Regions from separate parts of the Homo sapiens genome. Here region 1 is linked to region 2. Evidence: fine-mapped expression QTL. A gene starts in region 2. The other region holds a variant in brackets. All regions are shown on one strand. Distances are between the middles of the regions.

The links. PIP is the estimated chance that this variant, and not a neighbour inherited with it, causes the effect. A credible set is the group of variants that fine-mapping cannot tell apart.
Region 1: its variant is the best candidate, but not a certain one, in a credible set for the expression of CAMSAP1 in whole blood (INTERVAL, PIP 0.89).

Annotation. Positions count from the first base shown.
Region 1 is chr9:135,812,122-135,817,343 of GRCh38, forward strand. CAMSAP1 (calmodulin regulated spectrin associated protein 1) reads right to left here. Exons shown (of 17, transcript NM_015447.4): 15 at 3,769-3,884; 16 at 2,976-3,094. Among named protein-coding and RNA genes, the nearest start is that of CAMSAP1, 93 kb to the right of the region's middle. The variant G/A (reference allele first, on the strand shown) is at 3,107.
Region 2 is chr9:135,905,037-135,910,258 of GRCh38, forward strand. CAMSAP1 (calmodulin regulated spectrin associated protein 1) reads right to left here and starts at 2,510. Exons shown (of 17, transcript NM_015447.4): 1 at 1,964-2,510. The coding sequence starts at 2,123. CAMSAP1-DT (CAMSAP1 divergent transcript) reads left to right here and starts at 2,797. Exons shown (of 2, transcript XR_007061860.1): 1 at 2,797-3,883. RefSeq lists an enhancer at 1-1,002 and silencers at 1,649-1,698, 2,099-2,168, 2,249-2,358, 2,399-3,078.

The sequences.
Region 1 (5,222 bases), 93 kb before region 2:
ACGCATCCATACAAAACACTGCATATAAATAACAGCACTATCCCTTCACAGGCAAAAAGTAGAAACGAAAATATCACATGTACCCCCAAAAGCATGCACATCTGTTCCCTATCAATAAAAAATGTTTGAAGAAGAATCAACCCAAGTGTGCATCAGCAGATGACGAGATGAACAGCATGGGGTCGGAGCATGCAATGGAGCATTACCCAGCTACAAAAAGGAATGGAGGTCCGGTACACACTACACTGAGAAACCTCAGAGCATCACGCTAAGTGAAAGAAGCCTGACCCAAAAGGCCATATAATTATGATGCCAGTTATGTAAATGCCCAGAACAGGCAAATCCATGGAGACAGACTGGCGACCGCCAAGAGCTTGGGCGCGGGAAGACTTAGGGGGGTGACTGTTCACGGGCGTGGAGTTTCTTTTTATGAGGATGAAAATGCTCTGAAATTAGGCGGTGGTGATGGTTGTGCTACTCTATTAATGTACTAAAAACCACTGAATGGTATAACTTAAAAGGGTGAATTTTACGGTATGTGAATGATATCTCATAAAGCTGTTTGGGCCGGGCGCTGTGGCTCACGCCTGTAATCCCAACACTTTGGGAAGCTGAGGTGGGCGAATCACTTGAGGTCAGGAGTTCAAGACCAGCCTGGCCAATATGGTGAAACCCCATCTCTACTAAGGATACAAAAATTAGCCAGGCGTGGTGGCACATGCCTGTAGTCCGAGCTACTCAGAGAATCGCTTGAGTCTGGAGGGGTGGAGGTTGCAGTGAGCTGAGATTGCACCACTGTACTCCAGTCTGGGCGACAGAGTGAGACTCCATCTCAAAAAAAAAAAAAAGAAGAATCTGAAGTATGACAAACTGCTGATGCCTGTCGCCGCGTTTGTTGATTGTATTTTAAAGTTTAAAACGTATCTTCAAGTGTTTTGGTAACTTTTAAAAACAAACCCTCCACACGCCTGGGAATGGGAGTGCACCTGGGTCTGCCCTCACAGTTCTCCACATGCGGCCCAGGCATCCTGAGGCCTTCCCAGGAATCTCAGGGTCAAGCCCTCGACCTCGAAAGGCTAAGGCCTCATCGCCTCTCCCAAGTGTGCGGCAGAACCTTCCCAAGGCCCTGGGCTGTGTGGTTGTAATGGACGGAGGGCCCGAGCGGCTGAGATGCCAGCCCTCTTATGTCAATGCCACTCTTCTATTTATTTGGCTTTAGAAAAGTTACTTTTCATAAATATGCAATGTATCAGCATATAATGGGGTTTATTATTTTAAATAATACGTATTTTTTAAAAGAATCCAAAACTGTCTATATAATACTGATTTCAACCCTACTCACTGTGTTTAAATATGAACAGAATTAGATGCCAAAAAGAAAGAAACATTTAATTTGTAGCGACAGCGGGACTGTGGGGAGTGGGGTTCATCTTATTTACTTATTGCTGCCTGCACGATAAGGAAGCGTGTGGTGCCCACAGCTTATGTGGCACAGCTGAGAGGGCTGCTGTCCTAGAAAGGCCTGCCTGCTGGGCGGCCCTTGGTGGGCACCTGGGAACTTGCTATCTGCAGAGCTCGCTCCCAGTCACTCACTGGCAAGACAGGAGGGCCTCCTGAGCCTGAACTGCTGGTCTGCACGCTGACGCTGGTTTCCTCCCAGGCGTCAGGCACACTGCTGCACACTGGGCAGGGAGTGTGCCTTGTGACCAGCCCCCAAGGAGAGCTCAGGGCATCCAGTCTCAAAAGGGCTTTCCATGGCCCACAGGCTGCTGTGGATCCACTGCTGGAAGAACGAGAGCAGAGGGAGCTGCACAAGGCCTAGCCCCGCCTCTGTCTTCTCCCTCTTCACCCAGTGGCTGTGGCTCCCTCCACAGTGCTGGAATAAATCTAAGCCCTGGGTCGACTCCACACTGAGGGCCACGAGTCCTTCCAGTGCATCTCCGCATGCAGGGTGATCCTGGGGGCCACTGATACAGGGGGCCAACCACCTCTCCGTGTGGAAATCTAAGCAGGAAGGGCATGACCATGGCCTCTTCTGTCCCCAGTGCCACGAGACCTGCCTAGGTCGGGGCCATTCTTAGTCTAGATGATCTTCACTATCAAGAAAAGAACACATCCGTTTTAAAGTGGGTCAGAAATTCCGTATGTCACTTTAATTTTTACAACTAAACCAACTAAGGACCAGGGGTTAGTCTTAATTATTAAAAAGCAGAATTTCTGGTGGATGACAGATTGTTGCATAATTTTCATTCACTCATTCACAAGCCGTTGTATCCCAAGGCCAGCAACTTAAGGCCACACACCAGCCTCAATCTGGGGCAGGGTCCAGTGGCTCTGCCTCCTCTCCCCTGGAATCCCAGTCCTGCCCCTCAGGGGCCAGCCTAGACCCCGTGCAGGACCCTCAGATTCCTGCTTCCAAGCCCCTCCCTGGGCATGCACACTGGGTGCTCCGGAGTCCACACGCTCAGCGGGTGCGCGCCTCTTCCCTCCCTCCCCACTCCATCTTCCCCAACCCACCACTCCGTCCTCCGTCCTCGGTCCTCCCCAACCCACCGCTCCAGCCCTGGCCCCTGTTCCTCATTCACCTCCAGGCTGCCTCCCTGGCTTCCCTGCTGACTGCTCTGATCTACTGGGAAGGGCAGGTGGGTTCCTGGCTCTCCTCTGCCCACACCTGCATCCACTATCTCACTGAGTAGAACTATGTCTTTCCTCAGCCCAGAGGCACCACATGAGGATGTAGCCTCTGAACCCTGCCCCGTCCTCCTGGGTGTTCCTCCAGCACAGGCTCACTGCAGCCCCTGGACCTTGGCACTCCTCACTCCCACCTGCCTGGAACGGCCTCTTCCTTGAAATCTGCATTCTCCCTAGTAACTCTCATGCATCAAAGATTAGGGGTGTTTTCTTTTAAAAAGAACCCTTAATTTATAAACACTTTTTATTCCACATAAAAACTGAGGTTGAAACATGATACTTGCCTCCAATATGGAATTCTTGTGGGGTTCGTTCACTTTTCCAGCCAGGCAGCAATGGGATATGGCATTGTGAATAATCGGCTTGTTTGATTTACTACTGGGCTCCTTAAAGAGCTTGGGACCTAAGAAACGAG[G/A]CCAGGGTTGGTAAAATTATTATTTTAAGGCACGAACACACACAAAAAAGAAAACCAGCAATGTCTTAGAAGCAAGCAATGGGTAGGCTGAATTACAGATATTTATGATTATTTAAAAATGGGAAGTAAAAACCACTTAAATTTATTCAAAAGAATTTTAAGTTATAAATTTTTAGACAACTAAAGACAAAGTAATCAATAATTTATCCCCTTTCTAAATTCAGTGTCTTAACTATAAAAAAAAGACAAAACCAGGTAAATAACTTGTAAAAAGTCTAAAGTTCAAAGGCCCCGGGACATACACCTCAGCCACAGCAGCACCTCCAGTTCACTGTGCCCTGAGCCCACGCCTGCTCCAAGGGCAGCTGGTGAGAGCCAAGCACTTCCACCACTCCCGGGCTCTGCTGCCCCCAGGTCCGCTGCCCCCTGCACAGCAGACAGCAGGGCAGATGACCAGGAGGGCAAGGCAGGCCTAAGAGCTTCTACTAAACCACATGCCCATTTCAGCACCAAAGAGCTCAAATTAGCTCTCTTTCACTACATCAAACATCTTTGTTAGAAAAATACTTTTTAGACCAAAATAGAGAACAGATATTGAAAGAGCCACGCAAAGGCGTATGGCCATGCCCACGATGACCTCTAAGGAGGGCGAACGCCGTCACCTGTGTACTCGGCCACTGAGGCCAGGGAAGATGCCGCCGACGCGGTCTCCCAGTCTCGGTCTGTGCTCCTGCTTGGGTTACGGCTCAGTATGGGCAGGGCTTCCATCGATTCCACTCTGCAGGCAGAAACAGACAAGAGACAGGCAGGTGAAGCGCTGGCTTCCTCTCACCACTGCTGGCAAGGGGCTGGCCCGCAACCAGGACAGGAAGCACATCAGCAGGGGAGGAGGCTTTCGGTGACGGTGGGGGCTCGAGTTGCCACAACTCCCACACAGTACAGACACTCCGAGCAAAATACAAAAGCAAACACTTCAGGCACTAGGGAGTGATGAAGACAGACAGAGGGGAGTCAGCCCTTCACCGAAGGGGTTCACCTCCACGAAGCCCTTGCTCCAGGCACTGCCCCCGTGAGCAGGGCACAGGCACAGCACAGGGCACAGTGCTGCTGGCTCAGGAAGCCAGAGGATGAAGTTTGGGCCACCTGTGCTGCTGCCCAGCCAGGGATGAGACCTAGGGAAGGAGGGGCCACAGCAGGCCGAGTCTGAAAACTTGGGTCCCAGTGACGCTGATCCCTGGAAGGCCTGAGCTCCACCCTGCAGGGAAGTCTCCACTGAGCACAACAGATGCCGAAAGGCTGGACACAGCTGCTCAGAGATGTCGGCTGCTGCTCTCACAAGGGAGGCAGACAGAGCTGGAGTCTGAATCCAGCCAGGGTAACTGACCACCAGAACAAAAACCCAAACAGAATCTGCAGTCCCTCGGAGGGATCTGCCACAAAGCCCAGAGACAACAAGGAGCCATGAGACGGGTGAAGAGACAAGAAAACACGGCCCACAGGTGCACACAGAGCAGGAGCCACACGCTGTGCATATAAAAATAAAGGGACACATGGGCAAGGGAAGCCCTTGCTCCCACGAGAGCTGACAACACGCGTGGAGGAAGCGGTGAGCAGGAGCTCCATGGTGGTCACTAAAGCCCCTGCGGGACAGTTCCGTGAGGTCCAGACCAGTCCCCAGCCTCTCTCCTGAAGTTACTTTCTCATCACAGGAGCGGTCCCGGGGCCCACCTGAGAGGCTGCGTTGAGAAAGACGCACACTCACTTCTGGGCTGCTCAATCAGCAGCGCGAGGCCTCAGTCTCATCACAGGAAGCCGATACTGAGAGGCAGCCAGAAGGATAACTGACCTGTGGTTACCAAAAGTCAAGGTCCAGAAAAACACAGAAAGGCTAAGGAACTGCTCTGGATCGAAGGAGACTACAGGGACATGGCATTTCAAGGCCATTCATCGCCCCAAACCAGATCCTGGACTCGGAAACAACACAGTTGTCAGGGACACTCTTGGGATAACTGAGGACAGCTGAATGGGGACCGCAAATCGGATGAAAGTGCTGCCTTGGTAACTGGTAACACGAGAAAACATTCTCGTTCTAGGAAATACACACTTAAGTATTTAA
Region 2 (5,222 bases):
CAGTAAGGGGCACTCCAGTCTCAGCTCCTAAGATGGTGTCCAGTCTTCTCCAGCTCCTGTTCATGTTTCTTTTCTTTAAATGCCCACCTTTTAATAATTCCAGAACTCAAAAGCCCATGTTAGTATCAGATTGTGAATTCATCATCCGATGAGTCAACAAGGATTAAAGAGTGACCTGGTACCGGAAGTGAAACTAGACGAACCCAATACTAACACAGAGACACGCGTACTTATTTCTGGATGGCTGACAAATCCCATGCTGAATGCCAAAGCTAAATGCAATGAAATAAAAAATGCATGCACCTTGCTAAAGAAATTGGAAAGCAGATCGTGAAAGTTCTTTTTATAGCAATTTGTCTAACATCCGCTGCCTGAGCCCTCAGCCCTCTCCACATATAAAATCTTAAAAAACATGCAGGAGTAAAACTTTGTGCTCGGATCCCAGGAGCCATGCCCAAGAATGCACTGGGCTCCACAGCACCTACGGGAGCCCAGCCAGCGCCCACGAGCAGCTGCGGTGAACAGTCCTCAGTGAGACACTCCACAGCAGCGGAAATGTGGAAAAGTGAAGATGAAGTCAAGAAGAACCTAAGAACGTAACGTGGGATAAGGGAATAACAAAAGCCAGTCTCAGAAAGAGACATCATTGGCAAAGGTGTAAAAACTAGTTCGTGGTGTAAGCACATGCGGCAAAATACAAAGAAAAGCAAAACAGTGACTAACACAAGGTGTGAGGCAGGTGAGCCCACGCAGCCGGCAGTGACTGCAAGATACCCAGGCGTCCGCTCTCGGGCTGTTCTTTGCACCTGACTCAAGTTTCATACCTACATCTTACCAATTCCGTTCTCAAAAACTCATGTGAAGTCTTGGATGTAGCAGTGTTTCTTCCTCATTACAACACAGAAACTAAGGTTCCACTGAGCCAGTAAACAAGAACTGTAAAACTGAAAACTGTCAAAGGAAAAACTCTTTCCCAATTACTACTTACACAGTACAAAAACCAGTTTGAAATAAGGCGAGTTATTTAATCCCTAAAACTTACAAAACGCGTTTGTCCTTATGACTAACTCGAGTCTAGCTGGGGCACAGGCCACTGTCAAACAGGGCAACGCCTACTCAGCGTTTTCCAAACTGGTCAACTGAACTCTTCTCTGGAAGGGCTGTCTCCTTTAGTCTTACTCTAAAAAGGGTAATTTTTCACCAGAATAAAGGCAAATATTTTAAGAATGCTTCAAATGAAAAGAGGATTGCAGAAATATTAACCTTTAATTGTACCTGAAACAAAGCACCTGAAATTAATAAAGAAGTCAGCCACTGACGAGAATCACTAGGTCTGTCCTGTTCCCAGGGCACGAAACAGAAGCGTCTTAATCCACTAAGCACATTAGGGCCTAACAAACTGGACTGAGTAACAAGGTTACCTAGTTCTTCCAAACAGGAATTAACCAAAGGGGATCATTATGATTAAGCACAATGCGCGGAATACGCAATTTCTAGTTGGGGAATTCAACAGCTGACAGCTTGTAAGCATCAAAATTCATAACAAGTGCAAGGCTCGGAATCACAGGTCCAGCACTGGACGATGCCCGGCGCGCCGGGAAGCGGCGCCTCAGACGGCGGCCCCGCGTCCCCATGGTCCCTCCCTGCGCCCAGAACCGGGCAGCTCCTTCCCGCCGCCGCCGCCGCCAACGGGAGGCTGGGGGCACTCCCGAAATAGGAGCGGAAGCCCCGACCCACGCCGCCCTCCGCCGCAGGGACGCCCACTCGCCAGGTGACCGCGTCCCCACGCTCCGCGTTGCCCGGGCGCCGCCAGGACCTCGGAGGCGGCCGGCCCAGCCCCGACCCTGTGCGGACGCGGCACAAAGGCGCGGCGCGCGGACCCCGACCCGGCCGGACCCCGGCCGCGTCCCCCGGCCCCGGCCCGCGCCCCTGGCCCCCGCCCCGCGCCCCTCACCCGGCCCACCTCGGCCGTAGGCCTTGGCGCAGATCCACTGCAGGTTGGCGGCGATCTTGGCGCGCGCCGCGTCGTAGCGGTCCAGGGGCACGAGGTCGGCGGCGCCGTCCGGCGGGGCCTCCATCTTCCTCCAGCCCTCGGCGGCGGCGCGGCCGCTCGCGTCCACCATCTGCAGACAAAGGGCTGAGGCGGCGGCCCGGCCGCAACAAAGGCGCCGCCGCCCCTCGCCGCGCCGGGCCCGGTGCGCCCCGAGCCACCACTCGGCCCCGCAGCCGGCCAGCCGGGAGGGGCGCCCGAGCGCGGCCCCCGCCTCACCTCACAGCCGCCGCCGTCGCCGCCCCCGCGGCTGCTGCATGCTGCGGGCGCTGAGCCCGAGCGGAGGAGGTGCCGAGCCCGCGGCCCAAAGAGGCGGCGGCAGGAGGGCGCGGGCCGGGGGCGGGGGCGGGCGCGGGGGCGGGAGCGGGCCGGGGGCGGTGGCAGCGCGTGCGCGGTCCCGGGTGAGCGGCGGCGGCGGCGACAGCGGCTGAGGCGGTGGCCAAGGAGCGGGAGCGCGCTCACCGCCGGGGCCTCGCACAGGCGCAGTAGGCACCGCCCGCCACCCCGCCCTCGACCCCGCCCCCAGCTCCGCTCCCTTCTCGCGCCTGCCCCGCCCCTTTCCGCAGGCGCAGTAGGCACCGCCCGCCAGCCCGCGCCCGCCCCGCCCCTTTCCGCAGGCGCAGTAGGTGGCACCCGCAGGCCTGTGCCTGCCCCGCCCCTTTCCGCAGGCGCAGTGAGCGTCGACCCGCCCCTCCCCGCCCGCTTCCGCAGGCGCAGTAGGACCCGCCCTGGTCCGCGCCTGCCCCGTTGCTTTCCTCAGGCTCTAAGGCCCGCGGTGTGGAGCGCGGCGTAGGCAGCGGGGAGTGGGCGGCGCGGGGTGGGTGGAGTGGGTCGGCGGCGGGGATCCTGCCGAGCCCGCAGCTGCCCTCTTTTAGCGCCGTGTCTCCTCCCCGGCCCTGGCTCGTCCCACCTCAGCCACAGCCCGGCCCCCTGGCCGGCCGAGGTCTCGCCGCCGGCGCCCTGGGGACCTCGTGGGTGTGGCCGGCGGCGACCTCGGCAGGCGACAGCCCAGCAGACGGGCACCAGGTGGACGTGCCAGTCTCCAGACCCCCGTCCCGGTGCAGGGAAGGTGGGCGTTTGGACCCCTGAGGCAGAAACAGGTGCGGCCCCGCCGGCGCATCCCCCGGAAGGGACGCTGACTTCGTTCCCCTGGAGCCTGCGTCGGGGCCCGCGCTGGGCTGAGAATTACGGGAACGCCGTGAGAGTTTGCATTCCGAGGATTTGGTCTGAGAACCTCACCAGCGAAATAGAGAACTGCCCCCGGGAGAGCCGGCCCACGTGCCGCCCACCGGCGCCTTGACGGCAGGGAGAGGTCGAGCTTCCAGGGAGCGGGCGCCCGGCGCGGGGCTCCCAGCCTGTCTGTACCTGGTCGAGACACCCCGTGCCAGAGGCGGAACATGTATGAAATGCCAGGTGCCCAGAGGACCCAGGCAGTCCGTCATTCACATACCAACCCACGTGCAGGCTTCAATTCAACCTTGAAGCCATTTGGGCCTGGGCTTTTTTGATGACTTATTTGATTCATAGTTTTTTGGTTACTAATTGAGTCTCTTCACTTGTTATAGGTCTGTTGAGATTGTCTATTTTTTCTTGAGTCAGCCGTCTGAAAAGAACACGAGGTGGACAGGGCAGAGCGGTCAAGGAAAGCCATAGGAGGAGGGCACTTATTTGAGCAAAGACCGGCGGGACGTGGGCGTCGAGGGTAAGGATATCTGCAGAAGTACTGTCTTGAGCAAGGAGCACGGCAGACAGAGCCTCTGAGACACGAGAGCCTGGAGTGTAAGAAACACAGTAGAGGCCACTAAGTCGAGAACGCAGGAGCTGGAAGGACTGGTAGGAAATGGGAGGTGGGGACATGGAGGGATGCAGACAGGTCCTGCACAGTCAGAACTGTGGCCCCTTCTCTGCAGGAAATGGGCAGCCTTCGGAAGACTGAGCACACGGAAGGATATGACTAACCCTTTAAAAGGGTCATTCTGACTCCTGGGTGAAGAACAGACTAGGAAGGGCTGAGGAGGAGGCAGGAGGCCATCTACTGTTATATGGGATGTGGAGTGTGACCCGGAAAGGTCAAGTGTGACTCTAAGGGCTTTTTGTGTACTGATCTTTTATCCTGCAACCTTGCTAAACCCATTTATTAGTTCTTCTTGTCTTTTAGTGGCATTTATTAGTTGTTCTAGTGTTTTAGTGGATTCCTTGGGATTTTATACAAAAGCGTGTCATTTGTGAATAGAGATCAGTTTATCTCTTCCTTTCTAATCTGGATGCCTTTTATTTCTTCTCCTTGCCTAGCTGCCCTATCTAGAAGCTCCAGTACAATATTGACTAGAAGCAGCAAGAGTGGACATCCTTGTCTTGCTCCTGATTTCAGGGAGGAGGCATCCAGTCTTTCACCTTTGGGTATGATGATAGCTGTGGGTGCTTAAAAAATAGGTTTTATCAGGCTGGGCACAGTGGCTCACGCCTGTAATCCCAACCCTTTGGGAGGTCGAGGCGGGCGGATCACGTGGGGTCCAGAGTTTGAGACCAGCCTGGCCAACATGGAGAAATCCCATCTCTACTAAAAATACAAAAAGTTAGCTGAGGTTGGTGGCCGGTGCCTGTAATCCCAGCTAAAAAAGGGAAACTGTCTAAAAATCATTAAAAAAAAGGGTACTTCCTCAACCTGATAAAACCTATTTTTTGTTTGTTTGAGATAGTGTCTCACTCTGTCACCCAGGCTGGAGTACAGTGGCTGGATCTTGGCTCACTGCAACCTCTGCCTCCCAGGTTCAAGCGATTTTCCTGCCTCAGCCTCCTGAGTAGCTGGGATTGCAGGCACAGGCCGCCACGCCCAGCTAGTTTTGTATTTTTAGTAGAGATGGGGTTTTACCATGTTGGCCAGGCTGGTCTTGAACTCCTGACCTCCAGTAATCCACCCCCCTGGGCCTCCCAAAATGCTGGGATTATAGGCGTGAGCTACCACGCCCAGCCGAGGAAGTATCTTCTATTTCTAGTTTGTTGAGTGTGTTTATCATGAAAACGTGTCAGATTTGGTTAAATGATTTTTCCACATCCATTGAGATGATGATCATGGGTTTTTTTCCTTGTTCTAGTAATGTGGTGTGTTACATTAATTGACTTTCAGATATTGAAAAGACACTTATCCCCTGCGTTCAGATAAATTCCAGTT